Homo sapiens: one gene and its partner. The protein of the gene in region 2 interacts with the protein of the main gene of each other region in a pairwise test. Each region holds a gene or a part of one and is shown on either strand. Other genes may lie near its edges.

What was found.
Region 1: the proteins of ANLN (region 2) and MARCHF10 interact in binary tests that used the Homo sapiens proteins (3 or more experiments, as listed by UniProt).

The regions. Positions count from the first base shown.
Region 1 is NC_000017.11:62,798,299-62,805,325, forward strand, and holds part of MARCHF10 (probable E3 ubiquitin-protein ligase MARCHF10), read right to left. Parts: intron 6,750-7,027; exon of another isoform or gene 6,602-6,749; intron 3,455-6,601; 5' UTR 3,438-3,454; coding exon 3,348-3,437; intron 1-3,347. UniProt on the Homo sapiens protein: E3 ubiquitin-protein ligase. E3 ubiquitin ligases accept ubiquitin from an E2 ubiquitin-conjugating enzyme in the form of a thioester and then directly transfer the ubiquitin to targeted substrates.
Region 2 is NC_000007.14:36,385,962-36,392,879, reverse strand, and holds the start of ANLN (anillin), read right to left. Parts: upstream 3,019-6,918; 5' UTR 2,914-3,018; coding exon of another isoform or gene 2,854-2,913; coding exon 2,836-2,853; coding exon of another isoform or gene 2,806-2,835; exon of another isoform or gene 2,523-2,805; intron 1-2,522. UniProt on the Homo sapiens protein: Required for cytokinesis. Essential for the structural integrity of the cleavage furrow and for completion of cleavage furrow ingression. Plays a role in bleb assembly during metaphase and anaphase of mitosis.

The DNA.
Region 1 (7,027 bases), on a different chromosome or scaffold from region 2:
CAGGAAGAAAATCAAGAGAGTGTGATGTCAGAGAGCCAAAGGAGGCTGGATATGGAGGCTCATGCCTATAATCCCAGCACTTTGGGAGGCTGAGACAGGAGGATGACCTGAGGCCAGGAGTTCGAGACCAGCCTGGGAAACATTAAAAAAAAAAAAAAAAAAGAAAGCCAAAGAGTCATGTTTGAGAAGAAAGGAGTAATAACGTCAAAGGTAGTTAAGACTGCAGAAAATAAAGACTGGGAAGGAGCCCGGTGAATTTGGTTACTGACGTTAGCAGAAGAATTTCAGGAGAGGAGAGCGGAGGTGATGGTCGGGCTGAAGCAGGCCAGGGAATCCATGGGAGGGCAGGAAGCAGAGACAGAAATGGAGCTGGCTGTTTGGGGACATCTGGGATGAGGCAGGAAGAAGCCAGCGCTGCAGCTAGAGAAGGACACGATGTCTACAGAAAGCTTTGCTCTTTTGTTCTTAAGATGGGAGAGACTTAAGCACGTTCGTGGACTGAGCCAACAAGAAAGGAAATGTCAAAGCTACCAATGAGAGGCCTGTGGATGGCAGGGGCTGGAGAGCAGAGGGCCTCAAATCAGGATCTCAGGCTGGGTACCAGCAGGAAGAGGGTCACTTCATCCTCCAAGATGTGGGGACTAGATGGTGTGTAGCCTGGAGCGAATGGGAGGAGGCTGAGTGGGTTCTCACCTGCCGGCCTTGGGGTCTTCATTTTGTTTTGTGTGAGTGTGTGAAACCCGGCAGGGAGTTCTTTGTTGAAACTATGGAGGTTGGAGGTTTGAAAAGAGTGAAAAGGTTTAAAATCGTGATGATAACAGAGGGAGCTGATGGACAAGTAAATGTGTTGACGTGAGTCATCCTTCATTCTTTTCTTTCCCTCACTCCGCCTCTCCATCTATCAGCAAGATGTCTGTTCTGCTTCTATTTCCTGGGCCGGGCCACTTCTCACCACCTCCACTCCTACCACCCCGGGCCAAGTCACCAGAATCTCTCTCCTGAATTTCTATCATAGTTTCCTTACAAGTTTTCCCGCTTCTTCTCTTGCCCCTTCTAGTCCTTTCCATATACCGCAGCCAGAGTGACCCTTAATACAACATAAATCAGATCATACTATTCCCCCACTTAAACCATCCAATAATTCTCACAGTGATAAGAATAAAATTGGGCCAGACACAGTGGCTTATGCATGTGATCCCAGCACTTTGGGAGGCCGAGGCGGGCAGATCACCTGAGGTCGGGAGTTTGAGACCAGCCTGACCAACATGGAGAAACCCCGTCTCTACTAAAAATACAAAATTAGCCAGGTGTGTTGGCGCATGCCTGAATCCCAGCTACTTGGGACGCGGAGGCAGGAGAATCGCTTGAACCCAGGAGGCAGAGGTTGCGATGAGCCAAGATCGTGCCACTGCACTCCAGCCTGGGCAACAAGAGCACAACTCTGTCTCAAAAAAAAAAAAAAAAGAATAAAACCTAAATGCCAAGCTATGTTCTGTGAGACCCAGTGTGACACTTCCGTACTTTCCCTGGGTTCATGTGTTCCAGCCCCTCTGGCTAACTTTGGTTTCATCCGGGCTGGTTCCTGCCTCAGGGCCTTTGCACTGTCTCTTTCCTTCCGATTGGGAAGCTCTGGGGGGATCTTTCCCATAATTCACCTCAACAGTCAAGTGTCACTTCCTCAAAGAGACCTCCCCTGCTTCTAAGGGATCACCGCCTCCAACCCCTTAACCTGTTTTATTTTCCTCATTGTATTTATCAATAACTGAAACTACCTTACACATTTCTACTTGTGTAAGTCCTTCCCCCTCTTAATCTTAGAATAAGAATTCCAGGAGAACAGAGGCTTTGTTCAGCACATAGTAGGCACCAAATAGATATTGGCTGAATGAATGAATGAAAAGGCAGTGTTAAGAGCCCAATGGAGATTAGAAAATAAAACGGCAACGGCTCAAAGCCACACAGTTGTGTGATTTTCTTCAACAAGGACCATAAAACTATAAGATTGATTTTTTCCTACATGCCTGTTCTGGAGACAATTTCAAACAGGAGCCGGGTGGCAGAGGCATCTTTGTGAAAAGCAGTTAGACTCCCAGGGCGACCAGTGTGGATGTTTATGTTCTTATTTATTTTGCAGAAATGCCCTCGATTTTCTCGTCTTCTTATACGTGGGTTGGCACGTTGTGGGAGGAAATTGCTGACTCTGTTTCCAGCCCTAAAGCTAAGCCGTATTATACAGGTGAAATCAGGTTACTGAGACAGGTCTGGTTTCCTTGGTGACCTGGGAGCTTTAGTTATATTTGAAATTGCTAAGAAGGGGAAAAACCTGATAACAGCAGTTCTGTGTTTTCCTCAGGGAAGGAGCGCTTTTCAATCCTCAGCCCAGGCTGAGGACGTGCCTTCCTGATTGGCAAGGGCTGAGGTCCCACCTCTGGTGGGATGACTGACACTTTTTACCTGCTCCCAGGATCCCACAACCTAGTCTGGCAAGTTTGTCCTATGCCAGCTCCGGGTGACTGCAACCTCAGGATTCCTCAGGCTCCCTGTGTGTTTTGGTTTTGCACGTAAACACTGTAACTAGGGGGACCAGCAGTTAGCTCATTGTAAAATGTGCAAACCACCTTTCTTCTGGTGGGGATGACAACGAAGGGCGTGTTATTTTACAAATGGTAGGGCGACCCAGTTAACTCTTTCATGTTTTCTTTCCTTCTCAGTTGGTTTGTCAAATTTAAGCCCTAATGCCACTGGTGGACAAGGGCTCCATGCCGAAAACTGAGGGAAGTACTTTTACAGTGTTTATTTCATTTCATTTTCATGATAATACTAGAAGTGGATACAACCATTATCCTCGTTTTTTTGTTTTTGTTTGTTTGTTTTTGAGACGGAGGAGTCTCGCTGTGTTGCCCAGGCTAAAGTGCAGTGGCGCGATCTCGGCTTACTGCAACCTCTGCCTCCCGGGTTCAAGCGATTCTCCTGCCTCAGCCTCCCGAGTAGCTGGGACTACAGTGCCACCACGCCTGGCTAATTTTTTGTATTTTTTGTAGAGACAGGGTTTCACTGTGTTAGCCAGGATGGTCTCGATCTCCTGACCTCATGATCCGCCCGCCTCGGCCTCCCAAAGTGCTGGGATTACAGGCATGAGCCACCGTGCCCAGCTATCCCCGTTTTTTTTTTTTTTTTTACAGACGAGGATACAGAGAGGTGAAGTGGCTTTTGCTAGTTACATACCTAATCGGTGGGTTTGGATTTTAGAAAACTTTTACTGCTTATCATACGTTGATGCTGTATTCTGAATTCTCTCTAAATACTGCAAGAGAAGGCAGAAGACCATTCTTGCTTTCTGCAATTACCTGATACTCAGAGTCCACCTTATGCTGCATGTCCCGCAGATACTGAACATCGCTGAAGAACTTCTGCCTGTCCCTTGCGTCATGCAACATGATTCCTAATCCCTGACCTGCACAGAAAAGATAAACAAATGTGCTGTGTTAGAGTCCTTTGTCGTGATGCCGTATTTGGATTTATTTTCATCTAATTGCTTTTATTTGTGTATTCATCTAATTTCCCTTGTTTGAAAGGCACAGATGCTCCTTTCAAGCTGAAGGGACTTCTTGTGTTGCTGTTGATGCCCTTACAGTCCTCCTGTTCCAGGCATAAATAATGCAGCCACCTTCATCAAGCACTTCAGTGATCCTGTCCTGGTTACTCAGAGGGAGTTAGATTGACAGACACCTGATTCGGTTCTAGAGCATGACAAAAAGGAAAACCTGAGAGCCTAGCTAAATAAGCAGTGACCAAAGTTACAGGCCCCTGGTTACTTAAATTCATTTATGCAACAATGATTGCACCGTTATTTCCATCCAGGGACTGTGCTGGACACTGGAGTATAGCAAGCAGCAAAGCAGACACGACCCTCATCTTTGCTCTTTTTTTCTTTTTTCTGAGACGGAGTTTTGCATTTGTTGCTCAGGCTGGAGTGCAATGGCCAGTCTCAGCTCACTGCAACCTCCGCCTCCCGGGTTCAAGCGATTCTCTTGCCTCAGCCTCCCTAGTAGCTGGGATTACAGGCACCTGCCACCACGCCTGGCTAATTTTTGTATTTTTAGTAGAGACAGGGTTTCATCGTGTTGGCCGGGCTGGTCTCGAGTTCCTGACCTCAGGTGATTCACTCGCCTCAGCCTCCCGAAGTGCTGGGATTATAGGTGTGAGCCACCGCACCTGGCCTGTGTTGCTTATAATCCAGGGTGCGAGACTGACTTTGAGCAAGTGAATCCTAACTATGATAGGCCCTCTGAAGCAGAACTATGCGGCTCTTTGAGAGCGTTATTATGGGAGGGCATAACCTGGTCTGGAGGGGTCAGGCAAGGTTTTCCTTAGGCAATGACACTGGGTTTGACAGAGTGAGCTAGCTGAGAAGTGGGACAGAGAGGACAGCAGGTGCAGAGGCTTCAGGCATGAAGGAGCAGGTGCAGATGAGGCAGACGGGAGGGAAGCAGTGCAGCTGGAGCAGAGATGAGGAAGGAACAGCCCCGGAAGGGCTGCAGGGGAGGCAGGGGCCAGCTCCCATGGGGCCTCAAAGGTCATGATTCAAAGAGTCATGGGAAACTCCTGAAAGCTTCCAGTCTGGGAAGTAAATGATTAGATTCGTGTTTTTATTTATTTGTTAATTCTTTTTCTTAGAGACAAGATCTTGCTCCGCCATCCAGGCTGGAGTGTAGTGGTGTGATCATAACTCACTGGGTATAGTGGCTCACGCCTCCCGAGGTGAATCACTTGAGCCCAGGAGTTTGAGATCAGCCTTGGCAATATAGCAAGACCATTTCTATTTAAAAGAAAATTGAAAATTAGCCAGGTATTGTGATGCATGCCTATAGTCCTACCTACTCAGAGGCTGAGGTGGGAGGATCGCTTCAGCCCAGGAGTTAGAGGCTGGAATGAGCCATGGTCATGCCACTGCACTCTAACCTGGGCAACAGAGCAAGACCCTGTCTGTATTTAAAAAAAAAAAAATTGTATTTTAAAAAGATCCCTCCAGTTGCAGTATGAGAATGGATGGGGTGGGGGTGATGGTGGTAGAGTAAAACAAAGAAGTGGGAAGACCATTGGGAATATTTCATAGTAATCTAGATGTGATAAGATGGCAACCAGCATCGGGTAGCAACAGTGGAGAGAAAAAGGAGGAGGAGGTGGAGGACAGTGGGGAGGGAGAGGGGATCATAGCTACTCTTTTTTATTTTTTTTTGAGATGGAGTCCTGCTCTGTCGCCCAGGCTGGAGTGCCGTGGGGCTATCTCGGCTCACCACAACCTCCGCCTCCCAGGTTCCAGCTATTCTCCTGCTTCAGCCTCCCAAGTAGCTGGGATTACAGGCACGTGCCACCACACCCGGCTAATTTTTTATTAGTAGAGGCGAGGTTTCACCATATCGGCCAGACTGATCTTGAGCTCCTGACGTCAGGTGATCTGCCCACCTTGGCCTCCCAAAGTGCTGGGATTACAGGCATAAGCTACTGCGCCCGGCCCATAGTTACTCTTTACCGACCCTCTGGAAGGGATAGGCCTTGTTCTAAGCAGTTACATCAATTAACTCATTCAATCTTCTCAACAACGCAGTGAGGCCAGCACTAGATCTCTATTTCGCAGGTGAGGAAACTGAGGACCAAAGGGATTAAGTAACTTCCCTAAAGTTACGGAGCTAGTGAGGGGAAGAGTCGGGATGTGAACCCGGAGACTCGCTCCAGTACCCACACTCTTAACCAAGGGATTCAAGGGATGCTCAGGACAGAAAGTCATCAGGGCTTGCGATTATATGAATGGACCAGGGGTGGAAGTCTCAGGGATGCCCAGGTTACTGGCTTGAGCAGCCAGTGGGTTGGTGCCAGCATTCGCTTCAGAAAACACAGGAGGAGCTGCTTTGTGAGGAGACAGCATGGCGTCACAAGTGTCTGCGGTGCGGCAAACGGAGATGTCAAGTGTGCTGTCAGACGCAGGGCTCTGGAGCTGACCGGAGAGGTACAGATTTGGGCACTGCTGGCATTCTGTGATAACTGAAGTTGAAGGAAGAATGGGAACGAAAAGAGAAAGAGGACACAGGGACAAAACCTCGTGAAGAACACGAATATTTAGAGAACAAGCCGCTGAAGAGAAACTCTGCGGAAAAAAAAGAAAAAGCCAGAGAGGCAGGAAGAAACCAGGTGGGTGCCGTTTCAGAGATGCCCAGAAGAGAGGGTTTCAAAAAGGAGGCTATTAATAACCTTGGTGAGAGCATTCATTGGAGTGACGGGGCTGGGAGGGCTGCAGAAGGTTGCGTAAATGGGAGGCAAAGGCGTGGAGATCATGCTTTCAAGAAGTTTGGCTTTGACTGGCATGGCCCAAATTTATGGCCAAGATATCTAAGCTCACAAAGGGATAAAATGGCACTGTTAATAACGACCCCTCATCTATGGGGTCATCAAAGCCCCCACACTATTCCTGTTTGTTGTCTACTGAAGCTCTTTCATTTATTTCTACACACACACACACACACATATTTTTTACAACTGCTGTGTGTGACAAGGGCTGCTAGGCTCTGGGGAAACATCAGGATGGGACAGGCGACATCTCTACCTTCAGGTGTATACGTTCTGCGGCATTCCCTCGCTCCTCCTGTTTATTCAGTTGTGCAGATATTGGCAGAGTCAGGCCGCCCCGGACTCATGGTGACCCAGCGTCTGGTCTGGTAGTTATGAAATCTCACATGGTTTATCATCTGGCCCTGAACAATGGGGAAAACTTGTGCTCGTCTCTTGGGGGCTATTTTCTCTGGAGTATGGAAAGTTGGTCTTTTGACAGTCAGAATCTGAAACTACAATCCAATGTGTATTTCCAGTCTACACACAAAACATACATTTTGTCTCTAAGCATTTTAATAATCACTTATGGGACTATGTTTTAAAAGATCACTTTTAGCTTTTCATCTGAATGTGTACCTGCATAGAATGAAGTTACCTTTGCACTCTTTTCAGAAAACGATGGTGTTAAAACAGGCAGAAG
Region 2 (6,918 bases):
GTGAGTCAGTACAGCTTCAGTTACCATGAGCAGTAGGTCACAACAAAAGAATGTGATTTTGTCATTCAAACGTATATGAATGTTCTATTGCTTACATTAGATTCAAAAATTCCCAGATTAAAAAAAAATTAAATAGATACACAAAAAAAGATCCCTAATCTGTGAAGTAAAGCTATAAACACCAAAGGTTATTAAATTAAAAGAAATTATATATCTTAAATATATAAACTCAATAGCTCAATAAATGTAAGTAGCCGTTCCTTATAATAGTATATCAGGAATTTTAAAACTCTTTTAAATACAAGGTATATTCCTTGAAATATCACACCTTTCTCAAACAGTGTAGGCATTAAAAAAAAAAAAAAACCACTGCAATAACATATTCAAGAAGTAGGATAGCCCACATGTATGAATCTCAGGTAACTGAAGCTTATAGTCCCTGAACAACTTTTGCCACATACACCCCAAAGTCATCTCTGACAAATTTTTCTAGGAGATTTTACTAATTTCCTTGCCTTCTTTAACACAGTAGACTCAATATAAATTAACTTCTTATTATTTTCAATATGCTCTAGCAGCTCTTCCCCAGGGAACTTCATTTAATTCTGGAAAATAAGAGAAATTCCACTAAAAATGGTAGTGGCATGTTTATTTGCATACTTATTTATATGCAGCCTGCAGACATAAAAGGATCTAAAGCGTCTACAATAAAATATGCTTCTGTGAAGTATTTTAATTATAGCTTTTTCTCTTTTAAGGTTTTTATAAAGAAAGTTCTGGATTGGTACACTTCACTCTGGGTTTCTTTGTAGTATTCTTGTACTGGGATGACTATCACCTGTGAGTAGAGCTTCAAACTCTTGACGTTATGAGTAGTGAGTTTATGGTTTTGTCACCTGGGCGACACTGCGAGACTCCGTCTTAAAAAAAAAAAGAGTGCCAGAACAGTATCAGCGACCACAGGGAGGAAGACCAATGCAGAACAGTCTTGTTTGAGGAAAAGAGAGTTTACCATGATTGTAACCTTTCTCAACTGGAGTTACCAAAATAATTAAGCCCTAATACGCTGGCGTTAATATGATAGACTTATTTCCTATGTTTGTAGGGTGGCATTGAATTATCCTTGGGAGAATTGAGAAAATAGTCTCTCAATTTTCCTGTGTACCATGGTTCTGAGAGGAAACCCTGGTTGAGAGAGTCATTTTATACTGACTTTCAGTTGATAGACAACTGTACCAGTAGCTCATTTCACTGTGCAAATGTTATGAATGCTATAATTAAGCACCCAAGAGTTGGAATCAATTCAAGTAGTTCATTCATTACCTATTAAGGAAAAGACGTCTAAGCTGTTTTTCCAACTGCAAGTGATCTAACTTTTCATAATATAAACCATACATATTTCTGAGCACATCCTAAAACGATCTAAACAGGTAAAGTTTCTTTCAGTTGAGATTTGTACTACCTTCAGAATGACATTTTTAAGTAAAATGAAGTGCAATTTTCAGCCAACTTAAAAATGCTTTGTTCCTGTCTGTTACTTAGGAAGACACATAGGGCTAATGTTTTAAGGAATCGTATTCTAGTTTAGATAAAATAAATACACGCTTTTCGACCTCAGTGTAAGTGAAAGATACTTGGTGCATGACCAGCCCTATTTTAAGGCTAATACAAAAATAGGCTCTAGATTTTTCTATTAGAACCTTTAAGGAAGGTGAAAAAAATTGATGTATTTGTCCCAAGATGATTAAGAATTTGAAACAGAAAAATAGATTATGTCATGCTTGAATATAAGTAAACTCTAATTGCTGAAATCTGTAATTAATATCTCATACATAACTTATAGAATTATAATTACATCTCCCCGAAAGAATTACCACTCTTCACAGCATTTAAGTTTTTGAATCAGTGTAAACAGTTTTAGGTCCACTTTGCAACACTCAAAAACTAACAGTTTGAAATTTGCACAACAGCCTAAAGAAAGAGGAACTGTCCTGGAATAAAAGAGAGTGGACAACTGGCAACAAAACACTCCTGAATGTGACAACGCACATTCTCCACAAAAGCTAAAACTAGAGAAATCGACACAATAACCATGTAACCCATATGCAATCTCAAAGGAACAAAAGATGAAATAAGTACTGTAATGATATGCCCCAGAAACACCGAAAAGTTTATTTCTTTGCTCTAAAATCGTGAGCTGATAGTTTTGCTCGGTACACTTGCATTGTTTCAATTAAAATGGTCAGTCCCGGGTATGAACTTCTTCGTTAGTTAGCTGAACAATGGGATCTCAAGGAACTACTGGCTTTTTATGAACGAATGCAGTGGTTTCTAGCACCTGCTTATTTTAACGTTTTGCTGTCATTTCATTAGCATCTCCCCTGCGGGCTGCGTGAACTCCGCAAATCACACATCCTACTGCCTTTCCCGGCGGCAGCCGCACTGAGTCACCGGCCCCGGACCCCGCCCTGCAGGGCATTCCAGCTGCTTCCAGCAGGACCCGTTCCGCAGGCCTGCGCCTCACTCTTGCTGCGCCAGGACTGCAGAGGGACATGGTAAAAACGGGGGCTGAAAGACCTCTCGCAACAGCCTTTTAGGACAGACTCAAAGCCTTCCTCCCTGAGTTTTATCTGTAGGACCGAAACAACAAAATCTCAGAGGAACCCACCAACCACAGCAGGCCGCAGCCGCGGCGACCCCGGCCCGCACACACTGCGCACGCGCGCACACACGCGCCCTCCGCCCGGTGGGGGTTCGCCCAGAGGTTGACAGAGGAAGGTGGGTGGGGGCCTAGAGCGGTGGGTCATGGCTGGCTGCACCCGCAAACTCACTCACCTCCGTAAACGGATCCATCGCCCCAGGCGTCGGACTACGAGACGATGGAAACGGTGGTTCAAATTCAGGAAGAGAAAAGTGAGTCTCAGCTCAGTGTGTCTCCTGGAAAAAACCAGGAGTCTGAGGCGGGGGAACTCTCCCACAACCAGCTGTCCTCTCCTCTCGGCTTCCAGTGACGGACTCGGCCTCTGCAGCCGTTCAAATTTGAATTTCAGCGCCGAGCCGCGAGCATGCGCGCTGGGCGGAGCCGGGGCGCCCTCTCCCCGCCCCTGCGCTCGGTCACGTGGCCGCGCCGGGCCGGGTGGTTCCCAGGGGCGGCCCCGCCTCCTTCCCGGCCCCCTCCCAGCCCTCGCCGCGGGGTGGAGGCGGGCAGCGGGGCGCTTCCTGCTCTCCAACGGCGTCGGGTTCCTGGCTCCACCCCCAACAACCACACATTCCCCTCAGCTTTAAGGCGATTGCTTCACACCAACCGCGTTTGGGTGTTCCCGCCTTCCTTCATTCCTAAATAAAGTATTAAGGCCGGGAGTAGTGGCGCATGCTTATAATCCCAGCATTTGGGGAGGCTGAGGCTGGAGGATCGCTTGAGCCCAGGAGGTCATGGCTGCAGTGAGCTGCGATCTCACTACTGCACTCCAGCCTGGGCGGCAGAGTGAGACCCTGCCTCAAAAAAGAAAAAAAAAGGATTAAGAGCCCTTGTGTTGGCAGGACATAATCCCAGCACTGTGGGAGGCCGAGGCGGGCAGATCACGAGGTCAGGAGTTCAAGACCAGCCTTGCCAACATGGTGAAACCCCGTCTCTACTAAAAATACAAAAAAATTAGATAGGCATGGTGGCGCGTGCCTCTAATCCCAGCTACTCGGGAGGCTGAGGCAGGAGAATTGCTTGAACTGGGACCCGGGAGGTGGAGGTTGCAGTGAGCAGAGATCACACCACTGCATTCCAGCCTGGGCTACAGAGCCAGACAAAGAGCCCTTGTGTTTCAGGTGCTGCTAGCCCGTTGGCCTTCAGTAGCTTTGTTTCCTAGGTCACACCCAACTCCTAGTCCCCAAAAGGGGGACTGCAGGCCTGGCCCTCAGAAAAGCCAGTTCCGGTGGGTCCCCGACACTCTAAGCCAATGAAATAAAGCTAAAATTAACAGACTGTGTGAAGCGTTCATGCACAATTTTTTATTTTAAATTCCATCCAACTGTGTACAGTGTTAGAGCGGGAGGAATTCTGACAAGCCCTCTATCTAGTTCAATCCTTCCTTTTACTGCCGAGAGAAGGGACACCCGAAAACGTTAAAGAAACTGGTCCAAAGAAATGAAAACCCTGTTCTCAGCTCATGACCCGTTTTCCACACTAGCTAAGGCTGTGTCTCCTGCTTATTCTTTGTAGAGTACTCCAAATTGTAAGATAGGTTACATAATTTCTGTATCAGATTCATTTCTTCTATAACAAGTCTGTGCAGGTAAAGATGACAGTTCTTGATTTGTTCATCTGAAAAGTTAAGAGTGACTGTCCATGAGCTGAACAAAACAGAACTATTCCTCCCAACTGAGTGGTTTCAATATGTTTAATAATATGTCCATCTTAGCAGTCAATCAACATTACAAAAAGAATTTACTAATATTTTTAATTTGAATTTTTGTATGATAAATTGTACGTGACTGAAATCACGGCAAGAGGTAAGGGAAATATTGCTTGGGGTCAGGGCTCCACCCAGTTAGCCAAATCGGTTAACCCATGGGTTTTTTTTTTTTTTAACCTTTGTGGGGAGTCATGGACTCCTTTGGAAATATGTTAAAACTGACCCTCTACCTAGAAAAATGACCATTTAATCATAAACTATTTAACAGGATTTTGTGAAGTTCATGGACACCAGGACAAGAACTTCTGATTTAGCCTGTTTGTATTTTAGTTTACTTATCTGTGTAACAGGAATAATCATCTGCCCTGATTTCCTCAGAGTTGTTAGGAGGGGCAGATGAAAAATGGAGAGACATAATCCAAAAATATTTCATAATAAGTAATAAGACACTGTCCGAGTGTGTAGTATATGGAATTATTAATATTTAACCCAGAATGTGTTACTTATGAACAAAGGAAAAAGATACTTCCATTTTTTTCAAGTGTGACAAGAAAGGTGTGTATGTATTTGGGGCGTGTCTGTGTGTGTATGCGTGTTTTAAACAACGTTGGAAAATGAGTCATTAGAAATTTATGTAGCCGTTGTGCCTTCTGGCTATCACTTCTATGAGCCTTAGTTTCTTTGTATCTACCTCAACTAGATTCTAGTTAAGACTAAAAGAGGTAAAGCACCTAGCATAAGATAGCTACTCACAACATTTAGTGTATCTTCCCTCACCATCCCACTATGTCTTTGGTTTCTACCTTGATAATGATGATGATAGTGATAATGGCAACCATCACAATTAAATAACTCCTAAGACTGAAACACCTACTATGTGCCAGAAACTACGGTAGATATTCAAGTCTACTCTCCTAGGGTATTACAATTGTCTCCTACTATACCTCCTTTCATTCTTAACCCCCGGTAGTTCATTCTTCAGTTTCTAGGCTAGAATGACTTTTATCTTTTTAAAAATTGTGTTATATAACAAATAAAAAAATTTGAAAACAAAAAAATTATGTTATGAAATACAATAAAAATGTGAATAATAAAACATAACCATATACCAGCCACCTAGCTTAAAAAAATACAAAACATCCCACATGTAATTGAAGTCTCCTGTGTGTCCCTTCCTATTCTCATTCATCTTCCCACTCTTCCAGGGTAAAACTATCTTGATTTGATGTTTATCATTCCCATAGAAATATGTATACTTTTATCACATCTACATATATATCCATAACAATATCTAGTGTTTTATATATAAATTTTATTTGCAGAATGTAAGTCTTTCTGCAACTTTTTCTGGCCCAATAATATCTTTATGGGATTTATCCTCACTAATAACTGTAGCTGCATTTCATTCATGTTCACTGCTAAATTTTATTATACAAATATACTTGTAATTTATGTACCCATTATCCTGTTAATGGACATTTAGCTTATTTCCAGTTTTTCATTCCAAAGACCCCATGATGCCATGACTATCCTTTATATGCACATGCAAAACTTTCTCTAGAGCAATATACCTAGGAATATTATTACCAGATATTAAAAATAAACTGCTCTTCAAAATGGTCATAACAAATGATACTCCAGTCAGTAGTATATGCCCCTGGCTGCTGCTCTAGTTCCTCCCCAATATGTGGATACATTTTAAATTTTGCCATTCTTGTTTGAGTGCCTTTCTCTTATCACTAGTGAAGGTGAACATGATTTTTTATTTATTGGACTTTCAATTTTCTTTTTCTGTGATTTTCAACTTTATATCCTTGCCCATTTTTCTGTGCAATTATTTGCCTTTTTCTTATGGATTTATAGGGTTTTTGTTGGTTGTTTACTATTTTCTGGGAAAATAAACTTGGTTGGTTTTTCGGCTTGCCAATTTTTTGGTTTGTGGCTTGTCTTTTTACTTTATGATGTTTCAGATGTACAGAAATGTTTAATATAACTAATGATACACACACACACACACACACACACATACACACATACACATACACATATACCATATATATTTTCCTTTAGGATTTGTGTTTTTTATGCCTTAAGAAATCCTTCCATACCCTGAGATAATAAAGATGTTCTGCTGTACTTTCTTCTAAATATTTTAAAGTATGGCTTTTCATGCTTTTGTCTTTAAACTATCTGGATTGATCTTGTTTTTTGTATGGATAACCAGTTGTCTTAGCAGCAGTTATTAAATTGTCCATCCTTTCTCTCATTGACCTGTAATGCCACTTTTATCATATATCAACTTTTCTTTTTTTTTTTCCCGAGACAGGGTCTCGCTCTTTCGCCAAGGCTGGAGTGCAGTGGCCTGATCTCGGCTGACTACAACCTCTGCCTCCCGGGTTCAAGCGATTCTCCTGCCTCAGCCTCCCAAGTAGCTGGGACAACAGGCATATGCCACCAAATCTGGCTAATTTTTGTGTTTTTAGTAGAGTTGGGGTTTCCCCATGTTGGCCAG